Regions from separate parts of the Homo sapiens genome. Here region 1 is linked to region 2. Evidence: fine-mapped expression QTL. A gene starts in region 2. The other region holds a variant in brackets. All regions are shown on one strand. Distances are from middle to middle.

Region 1 (5,367 bases), 47 kb before region 2:
GGAGGAAAAATGGAGAAAAAAGAGCGGGAGGGTAAAATAAACAACAGAAAAACAGTACGGAAAAGGGAAGGTGGCCATGGGATGGGCAAGAGGGCAGAGAAGCAAAGAGGCCATTAGAATGACCGGTCATGGAGGAAGGACACAGCCGGGCACCCTGCCCACCCACCTGCCCGGGCTCACCGTCCCAGTGTGGGGTTGTCCTCATTGCCACACCAGCCACACTCGTGGCTCTGCAGACACTCATGGCAGGTCAGGAAGCCATCGCAGCTCCGGCACCGTGGCTCCGAGTGTACACTGCAGGATGGCAGGGGTGGGGGTCAGAGCCCCAGCCCCTTGCCGGTGGGGAATCTTCCTCTGTTAGCCCTGCCCCAGGGACCATACCTGTCGTCCCAGCCTCGACAGCCCCCGTGTGGGTACCGGGCCAAGTAGGCAGCAAACAGGAAGCAGGTGTGGGTGGACTGGCACCAGGCGCACTGGCTAGAGTTGGCCAGGCAGTCCTCACAGGTCAGTCGCCTGGGGTGGGGAGCAGGGGGCCAGGTCACTCCACAGCCAGCACACATCCCCAGGCACATCCACCCACCCACTCCCTGCACCCAGCCTGACTCACTGGCTGCAGAGCGGGGGACACTCCTCTGGACTCTTCAGGGCACCCCGACCCCGGCCCCGCCGGCTGCATGCCGCGTCCCCTTTGCGGCTGGTGCTCTGATGCCACTCACAGAAGGGGTCCTGGGGGTCAGTTGGGCAGAGGAGTCAGAACCCCACTCAGCCCTTTCCTTTGGACTCCCAGTGCCCATCCCACCCCCTGCCCCACCCTGCAGACTGTCCCTGTAAGGCCATCTCCCTCCCCAGCTGCCTGCGTCTCTGGACCCCTCCCTTCGACCACAGACACCCATGGGTCGGCCCGCCCAGCACCCACTGTCTCCTTTAGGCAATAGCACCCCTTCTGTGTGGTCCGGGTGGGGCTTATTCAATCCTCAGGATCCAGAGGTGGGCAAGGGGCCACATTCCCTCCCCACAACTCCAGTCATTGGCCCAGGAGCCTGTACAAGGCCCAACCAGAGCCACAGAAGTGCAATTCTGGGACTTCTGTTGAGCTCCTGGATGGTGGTGGGGTGGGGGGAGAGAAATAGGAAGCCTCACTCTGTTTGAGACAGAGCAGGGACTTAGAGCCTGGACCCTTAACGGCTCCCTTGCCACTCACAAGGAAACAAACCCTCCCAGGGAACAAGAGGAAGCAGGGTGTCGAGGGCTGCCTGACATCACTTGGAGGTGGCAGGCCTGAAGGCCTACTCCTGGGCTCCAGTGCCTATGCTGAGAAACTCCCCGCTAGTGGAAAAGGATGGAGTTGCATTCTCTGGCCCCTACAACAGGGAGAGTCCTGACTCCCCAGGTGCCTCTCTCTACAGCTCCATCTCACCCTCCCCACCAGGCTCTGCAGATCAAGGCCAAAAGCCCTTGCTGTTTCCCCCACACCCCCCACCAGGGGTTCCCTTGACTGCCCATTGCCTGCTGTGGCTCCCTCCACCTTGTGACCTCCCCTGGTGGCCCCACAGGCACCTGGGTGCAGGCGTGGCAGTCCCGATGCTCCTCGCAGAGTGGGCAGAGGGTAGGCACCAGCACCAGCAGGGACCCACCAGCCCCGTCATCCCCGCAATGGGCTCCGCCCTGGCGCAGGTGGCAGGTGGCACTGGTCAGGCACCAGCCACAGCCCTGGTCTGCCAAGCAGCCCAGGCAGGAAGAATAGGAGGTGCAGGACGACGAGCGGTAGGGCTCCAGGAAGAAGAAGGAGATCTCCTGGGGAAGGGGTCACAGGAAGGCAGCAGTCAAGGTCTGGGGCAGGGGTCAGAGTCTGGCGCTAACTGAAAGTAAGGGTTTGGAGCCCAGGTTGAGAACTCAGGCACATAGGAAGTCAGGATTTAGGAAATCAGTAAAGAGGTCCAAGGTCTGGAGGAATCTGGAGATTATTATAGGTCAAAGTATGGAGGGCAGAGGTCAGGGTCAGCAGGGTCAAGGGTGAGGAGTCAGAAGATGGGGGTCAAAATATGGGATCAGGTTAGGGTCTATAGGCAGAGGTCAGGGGCCACAGGGTTCAAGAGGAGGTCCAGAGTTCAGAGGCCAAGAGTTAAGGAGTCCGAGGCCAGAATCTAGGGATTTCAGAGTTTGTGGCCTGGGGTTCAGAAAGCCCAGGTGATCTGAGGCTGGGGCCTGCGGCTAGGGTTGGAGGTAGGTCCTGGGTACTCACGCTGCCTCCTGGCACACCAGTCCGATCCCACAGCAGAGTTAGCTCGCTGTGCCCAGGGCCTGCCGAGCC[A/G]TTGAGCTGGCCCTGGATCTCTACTGCATACTTGTGGTCCCGCCCAGGCAGAGGGAAGAGGCGAGCAGACCCAGGGCGCTGCAGCCGCCGCGTCTCCTTCTCCTGATGAGCCACCCAGCGCCCCACCTCCTCCTGGGGTAGGTGTGAGTGATAGGCAGGGGCCTCAGAACCCTTCCCATTCCTTCCTCAGACCCCTGATACCTCCAAACCCACCCTGTACCCCACCCCCTCCTAAGAAGAGGGCCTCAGAGCTCCTTAGATCCTGAGAACCTCAGAGGTGAGACCCCCAGGGACCCTCCTCCTCAGGGGCTTTTTTTTTTTTTTTTTTCTTGAGACAGGGTCTCATTCCATCACTCAGGCTGAAGTGCAGTGATGCGATCATGGCTCACTGCAGCCTCAACTTCCCAGGTTCAAGTGATCCTCCCACCTCAGCCTCCCAAATAGCTGGGACTACAGGTGCATGCTACCATGGCCAGCTAATTTTTGTATTTTTTGGAGAGATGATGTCTCGCCATGTTTCCCAGGCTAGTCCCAAACTTCTGGGTTCAGGCAATCCACCTGCCCCTACCTCCCAAAGGGCTGGGATTACAGGTGTACACCTCCATGCCCAGCCTTCAGGGGCCTTTCAAGTCTGACTCAGACCTTCCTCACCTGCTTCAAAGTTTCCCTCAAATTCTGCTCACAATTGAAAACCTCAGCACCCTCCCTCCTCTACGAAAGATCCATTCCCAGCCAGGCGCAGTGGCTTACGCCTGTAATCCCAGCACTTTGGGAGGCCAAGGTGGCGGATCATCTGAGGTCAGGAGTTCCAAACCAGCCTGGCCAACATGGTGAAAACCCATCTTTACTTAAAATGCAAAAAAATTAGCCAGGAGTGCTGATGCACATCTGTAATCCCAGCTACGTGGGAGGCTGAGGCAGAAGAATTGCTTGAACCTGGGAGGTGAAGGTAGCAGTGAGCCGAGATCGCGCCACTGCACTCCAGCCTGGACAACAGAGTGAGACTCTGTCTTACACACACACAAAAAATCCATCTCCTGCCTCTAATTTCTCCCCAGCCCTTCCCCAGAACCTTCAAATCACCACAGATGCTCTATACCACACCCCTAACTCCCTATTTACCATAAACAACCCCCTGAATGTCCCAGGCGGCCTCACCATGTTCTCCGTGTCAGGGCCACGGGCCATCCGGGCCAGGACGTGTAGGCGCTGGGCCCGCGTCCACACGGCCACGTCCTCAGCCCCTGGTCCACCTGGCCCTCCAGGCAGCATTGGGTAGATGAAGCCACGGTAGACCAGGGACACATCTGTCTCTGCGCTGGGTGTTAGGGTGATGGTCGTGCTGCGGACAATTGAGACCTGTGCCACCAGGGATGGGTGTATGTGTGAGTCCCTTTCTGGACTCACAGGCCACATCAGAGCCAGAAAAGACTGGTCAACCCAACCTTCTTCCCCATTTTACCAAATGAGAGACTGAGGCAGAGGGACAGGGGTTAGGTGGCTTGTCAAAGGTCACTCTGGGAAAAGAGGCAAGACCTAAATTCAGACAATAGACGACAGGGTCCCAGAGCCCACCTTTACCCCTGGCCTCTAGCCATTTCCATCTCACATTAAAACTCCAGGACTGGACACTTCAGTGTCTTCTTATCCAACTCCTCACCTTTCCAGCTAAGCACTTCAAAGCCCAGATCTAATATTCAAAGTGGCAGACAAAGTGCAAGATTTATTTTCCTGGTGTGTGATTTTGTAATAGCAGAAGAGTGGAACAGTCCAAGTGTTCACCAGTGGGAGGCTATTTAAATAAACTACAAATGTAAATGGAATATTATACAACTTAAAAAAAAAAAGAAGAATGAAGGCTGGGCACGGCGGGCACTTTGGGAGGCCGAGGTGGGCAGATCACTTGAGGTCAGGAGTTCAAGACCAGCCTGACCAACATGGTGAAACCCCATCTCTACTAAATACAAAAAATTAGCCGGGAGTGGTAGCGTGCACTTGTAATCCCAGCTACTTGGGAGCCTGAGGCAGGAGAATCGTTCAAACCCGGGAGGCAGAGGTTGCACTGAGCCGAGATTGCGCCATTGCACTCCAGCCTGTGCAACAAGAGCAAAACTCCGTCTCAAAACAAACAAAAAAAATACAAAAAACAGCCAGGCATGGTGGTGCATGTTTGTAATCCCAGCTACTTGGGAGGCTAAGGTGGGAAGATCACTTAAGCCCGGGAGGCAGGGTTGCAGTGAGCTGAAATCGCTTGCCACTGCACTCCAGCCTGGGCGATAGAGAGAGACTCCATCTCAAAAAAAAAAAAAAAAAAAGAATGAGAGTGTTTCTTAAGTTCTGTTATGGGAAGCTTGCCAGGAAGAAAAAAAGGAAGCAGTCGTATAATGTTCATAGTATATTAGTTTAGTGAGAAAGAAAAATGATATGATGTCATGCTTACTTGCATCTGAATAGGTAAATTCTGGAATAAGATCAAAGAAACCCAAATGGATCTTCCAGGGAGGTATGGTGGCCTTAAGTTGCAGCCATGCTGGAGCTAGATAATTTTGGACCACTTAAGGGGTAGGGAGTGGGGTAAATGAGAGAGACTGTCCATTTAGTGACTTTTTTTTCTTTTTCTTTTTCTTTTTTTTTTTTTTTTTTTTTGAGACAGAGTCTCTCTCTGTCACCCAGGCTGGAGTGCAGTGACATGATCTCAGCTGACTGCAAGCTCCACCTCTCGGGTTCACGCCATTCTCCTGCTTCAGACTCCTGAGTAGCTGGGACTACAGGTGCTCACCACCACACCCAGCTAATTTTTTTGTATTTTTATTAGAGACAGGGCTTCACTGTGTTAGCCAGGACGGTCTCGCTCTCCTGACCTTGTAATCCGCCTGCCTTGGCCTCACAAAGTGCTGGGATTACCGGCGTGAGCCACCGTGCCCAGCCTTTTATTTATTTATTTATTTTTAATTAAAATGGAGTCTCACTCTGTTGCCCAGGCTGCAATGCAGTGGCGTGATCTTGGGTCACTGTAACCTCTGCCTCCCAGGCTCAAGAGATACTCCTCCCTCAGC
Region 2 (5,352 bases):
CTTGAACTCCTGACGCCAAGTGATCTGCCCACCTCAGCCTCCCAAAGTGCTGGGATTATAGGAGTGAGCCACCGTGCCTAGCTGATTATGACTTCTTTTTTGGAGACAGGGACTCACTCTGTCACCCAACCTGGAGTGCAGTGACACCATCATGGGCCACTGCCACCTCATCTCCCAGGCTCAAGCTATCCTCCTGCCTCAGCCTCCCAACTAACTGGGACTACAGGCACTTGCCCTTTTTTTTTTTTTTTTTTTTTTTGAGACGGCGTCTCGCTCTGTCTCCCAGGCTGAAGTGCACTGGTGCCATCTCGGCTCACTGCAAGCTCTGCCTCCCAGGTTCACGCTATTCTCCTGCCTCAGCCTCCCAAGTAGCTGGGACAACAGGCGCCTGCCACCACGCCCCGCTAATTTTTTGTATTTTTAGTAGAGACGGGGTTTCACCGTGTTAGCCAGGATGGTCTCGATCCTGACCTCGTGATCTGCCCACCTCGGCCTCCCAAAGTGCTGGGATTACAGGCGTGAGCCACCGCGCCCAGCCTTTTTTTTTTTTTTTTTTTAGACAGGGTCTCACTGTGTTACCCAGGCTGGTCTCAAACTTCTGGGTTCAAGCGATCCTCGCACCTCAGCCTCCCCAGTAGCTGGGACTACAGGCATGCATCACTGCACCTGGCTCCCTCAGACTTTATTTGTTTGTTTATTTTTGTAATTAAGACAGAGTCTCGCTGTGTCACCCAAGCTGGGCCACTGTTGCCCAGGCTGGGCTGCAGTGGCGCGATCTCAGCTCACTGCAACCTCTGCCTCCCAGACTCAAGCAATTGTCCTGCCTCAGCCTTCCCAAGTAGCTGGGACTACGGGCGTGTGCTGCCATGCCTAGCTAATTTTTTTTTTTTTTTTGTATATTTAGTAGACACGTGGTTTCGCCATGTTGGCCAGGCTGGTTGACCTCAAGTGATCCGACCATGTCAGCCTCCCAAAGTGCTGGGATTACAGGCATGAGCCTCCATGCTGGCCTCCCTCAGACTTTAAAATCAAGCTATTCCACGATATTCCCCAAACCTAATAAGAAAGTGATTACCTGTGTCTTTTCTTTCTGCTTGCCCATTCTTCATTATCTTTCAGACCCAGCTGAGATACTACTCCTAGGAAACCCATAGTCCTCAGAGTCCTTCTCCTCTTCCTCCCCAGAGGTCCCTGTCTCTCCCTCAAACACAACTTTGACACCCCTACACCTCTGTGTCTGGATCTGTCTCCCTAAACACATTGGGACAAGGTCAGGAGCTGACCCACTCATTTACTACTCATTCAGCAAGCACTTGTGGAATAACCACTGTGTGCCCGGCCCAGTTCCAGGAAAGTGGATTGAAAACATAAACACAATGAATAACACTCATCTCTGTCTCAGTATCAATCCACCTCGAAGGAATGAATACATGGGAAGGTCCCACCTGGAGTGAGGCTACAAGAACATGACCAGGACGTTTAGCAGGGAGTGAGCCCCCCACCTGGTCCCAGAGAAGAGGGAGATCTGAGAAGACACTGAGGTCTGAGATTAATTTGGGGCAGCGTTGGGGGAGAGGCGCGACCCTAGGTGGCCTTGGCTATGGATGTAGGTTTCAGAGCTCAGACATACCCAGTTGGCCTGTGGGTTTAGAGAGAGTGTAGAGGCTGCAGATCTGCAAGATGATCTGCCGGAGGGACGCCAGACTGGACCTGAGCCCTGGAGGCGTCTCTAATTTCCTTTCTCTTTCTGCACCTTCTTCTACCCTCCAAGCAGGTCCTATGGTGTCTTGAATGCAAAGATATGTAGTTTATATGTTATGCCACGCGCGCGCACACACACACGGTGTTTTGAGTAGGGGTCCTGTGATGTCTTGAATGCAAAGATATGTACTTTAGATTTCAACACACACACACACACACACACACACACACACACACACACACCCACGGTGTTTTGAGTAGGGGAAGCCCACGAGTAGATAGGCTCACTAAAGCCCTGGCGCGGCCTTAGAGTGGCTCCTTAGAAGGGAGCCTCGAATTTTCACATTTTGTCATCTTCCTTTTCTGTCCCCCACATCAGTAGAAAATAGGAGCGTCCCCCCCAGCCAGGTGCATTCGAGCCACCCCTTCAAGGGAATATAAGAATGGACTCGTCCACTCGCTCCCCTCCCCCCACCACGTGAATGGGTCACCCCCCCCCCCGCAACAGTAGGTGGTCCCTTCCGCACATTTCACTCTGTACAGCAAATGGTTTCTTCCCATTTGCTAGACAGAGGGCTAGATTTTCCCCGCCCACTCTCGACTCTTCAGGTAGTTCGCCCCTCCCCGTGACCGGTGGGTGGTTTCTCCCTCCTCCCCGCCTCGGGAGCTGGATGGTCTCGCCTCTCCCTCCCCCCACCCCGTGCCGGGTGCGCGGCCTGGGAGTCAGCGGCCCGAGCGGGAAGCGCCGGGCGAGCCCACTGTGCGGCCGTCGTGGGGGAAGCGAAGGTTCCTGATTCCACCTACCTCCTAAGTGAAGGCTTCCGTCCCTGGAGAGGAGGCGGCGCCCTGTATCGGCCTTCGTCCTCCGCGGGTGTGCTAGCGTTGGGACGGTCCTTTGTTGCCGCGAGGGGTAGGAGTGGGCGTGGCGGAGCCAGCTCCGTTCGGAACACTCCCGGGCCGACCCGACTCGCTCATCCTGCAGGAGCTGCGGCGCCAAGATGAGTGGAGAGGAGAACCCAGCCAGCAAGCCCACGCCGGTGCAGGACGTACAGGGCGACGGGCGCTGGATGTCCCTGGTGAGCGTTCCCACCTGGGATATTGAGGAGTCCGGGGGCGCGGGGGGTGGCTCAGGAGAACGGCTGGTTCGTGCCACTCTCACTACCTGATTGGGAAACTGAGGGCAGTTGAGGAGGCGCTGCCTAAGGGAGCAGGGCGGGGCGGGCCCTGGAGCGTGCATGCCATTGACTCCCTCTCGCGCGCTCCCGCAGCACCATCGGTTCGTGGCTGACAGCAAAGATAAGGAACCCGAAGTCGTCTTCATCGGGGACTCCTTGGTCCAGCTCATGCACCAGTGCGAGGTGAGGGCAGTCCCTCTCCCCCTGCCCCATCCAGCCCTGTGTCCATGCTGACACATCTGGACCAGAACCCAGGCCAGGTGAGGTATTATGAGAGTACCCAGATTGGCCTCAGGCAGCCCGAGGCTCTGAGAATCTTGGTGTAAGGTGCAACATTCTATTGAGAAAGAAATGTATGCCTTGGTTTTATCAGATTGGATTTGTGTATAATGTACTAAGACCTAAAATGAGGCTTTCCTGCCATAGGCTTGCCTAAAGTGAGGCTCTTTCTTGTTTGCTTTAAGTAGTGCGCAGCCCTGTTGGGTTTACACAAAGCTATAGTCACTTTACAGGAAGCGAAGGGCAACTCTAATGGCACTCCACAAAGAGGACTCAATCATAATAATATCTTTCCACAAAGCATGTCCAACTGTAATGGGTTTCATCAAAATAAGTTTCAACTGTAATGCCATTGATTCAATGCATGGCTCAAGCAGACTGGATTTTCATGAAGTGAGTCTTGCTTCTATGGGGCTTGGTTTGTTTTGTTGGTTGGTTGGTTGGTTGGTTGGTTTTTGAGACAGGGTCTTGCTCTGTCACCCAGGCTGGCGTGCAGTGGTATGATCTCTGTTCACTGCAACCTCTGCCTCCTGGGCTCAAGTGATCCTCCCACCTTAGTCTCCGAGTAGCTGGGACTACAGGTGCACATCACCATGCACCTGGCTAATTTTTGTAATTTTTGTAGAGATGGGGTTTTGCCCTGTTGCGCAGGTTGGTCTTGAACTCCTGGGCTCAAGCAGTCCGCCCACCTCAGCATGAGCAACAGAGCCTGGGGCTTGGTTTAAAGTGAGAGACTCTAGGCAGGGTGTGGTGGCTTACGCCTGTAATCCCAGCACTTTGGGAGGCCAAGGCAGGCGGATGACCTGAGGCCAGGAGTTCGAGACCACCCTGGCCAACATGGCGAAATCCTGTCTCTACTAAAAATACAAAAATTAGCTGGGCATGGTGGCACATGCCTATAGTCCCAGCTACTTGGCAGGCTGAGGCAGGAGAATCGCCAGAACCTGGGAAGCAGAGATTGCAATGAGCCGAGATCGCACTACTGCACTCCAGCCTGGGCAACAAGAGCAAAACTCCGTCTCAAAAAATAAATAGGCTGGGCACCATGGGCTCACGCCTGTAATCCCACCACTTTGGGAGGCCGAGGCAGGTGGATCACCTGAGGTCAGGAGTTCGAGACCAGTCTGGCCCACATGGTGAAACCCCATCTCTACTAAAAATACAAAAAATTAGCTGGACGTGGTGGCGTACACCTGTAGTCCCAGCTACTCAGGAGGCTGAGACATGAGAATCACTTGAACTAGGGAGGCGGAGGTTGCAGTGAGCCGAGATAGTGCCAGTGCACTCCAGCCTGGGTGACAGAGTGAGACTCTGTCTCAAAAATAAAATAACTCTGTCTCAAAAATATAAAATAAAATAAAATAAGTGAGAGACTCTAATAGATTTCTATAAAGTGAGGTTCAGCCATGCTGGAGTTTGCTCCAGGTAAAATTTTAAGACTGCTTCCATGAAGTAAGGTTCTTCCATAATGGCATTTGGTTAACACCTGGACAGAGGGGGATGGTCCATGCGGACAGTGCCCTTGTGCCCCTACCACTTCTTGCCCACACCACTTCTTGCCCACAGATCTGGCGCGAGCTCTTCTCTCCTCTGCATGCACTTAACTTTGGCATTGGTGGTGACGGCACACAGCATGTACTGTGGCGGCTGGAGAATGGGGAGCTGGAACACATCCGGCCCAAGGTGAGCGGGGCTTGGGTGGGGCTCTAAAACATCTTTTGGCTGCCCCCTCACCGCTGCTTCATGTCTCTTTTTCCACAGATTGTGGTGGTCTGGGTGGGCACCAACAACCACGGACACACAGCAGAGCAGGTGACTGGTGGCATCAAGGCCATTGTGCAACTGGTGAATGAGCGACAGCCCCAGGCCCGGGTTGTGGTGCTGGTGAGAGGCTGGGAGAGTGGGAAAGGAAGAATGGCAGTGGTCTGGGACCCCCTCAGATATAGCCACAGTTGGCACAGTTCTAGGCAGCTTGACATAGAGCAGTGGCTTTTAGGCAGAATCTCACGTTGGAGCTTGCTATACCCTTCAGAGTGGCTGTGGTTGAGAATATGCTCCGAGACCAATTAGCCTTTTTTGCCCAGGGATGGCTTAAGACTTTGGGGGTATTGAAAAACTAAAAAACGGGCCAGGCACGGTGGCTCACGCCTGTAATCCCAGCACTTTGGGAGACCGAGGCAGGTGGATCACGAGGTCA

Evidence for each region. PIP is the estimated chance that this variant, and not a neighbour inherited with it, causes the effect.
Region 1: its variant is the best candidate, but not a certain one, in a credible set for the expression of PAFAH1B3 in whole blood (TOPMed, PIP 0.70).

Annotation. Positions count from the first base shown.
Region 1 is chr19:42,346,575-42,351,941 of GRCh38, reverse strand. It overlaps MEGF8 (multiple EGF like domains 8), which reads right to left. Exons shown (of 42, transcript NM_001271938.2): 13 at 3,470-3,670; 14 at 2,243-2,443; 15 at 1,558-1,794; 16 at 608-726; 17 at 382-513; 18 at 181-294. It overlaps MIR8077 (microRNA 8077), which reads right to left and starts at 811; the gene lies at 737-811. RefSeq lists an enhancer at 1,638-2,139. The variant A/G (reference allele first, on the strand shown) is at 2,312.
Region 2 is chr19:42,299,657-42,305,008 of GRCh38, reverse strand. It overlaps PAFAH1B3 (platelet activating factor acetylhydrolase 1b catalytic subunit 3), which reads left to right and starts at 2,385. Exons shown (of 5, transcript NM_002573.4): 1 at 2,385-2,777; 2 at 2,970-3,059; 3 at 4,722-4,838; 4 at 4,917-5,039. The coding sequence starts at 2,700. PRR19 (proline rich 19) reads right to left here and starts at 2,877. Exons shown (of 3, transcript NM_199285.3): 1 at 2,506-2,877. RefSeq lists a silencer at 2,271-2,490 and enhancers at 2,044-2,698, 2,651-2,780, 2,861-2,910.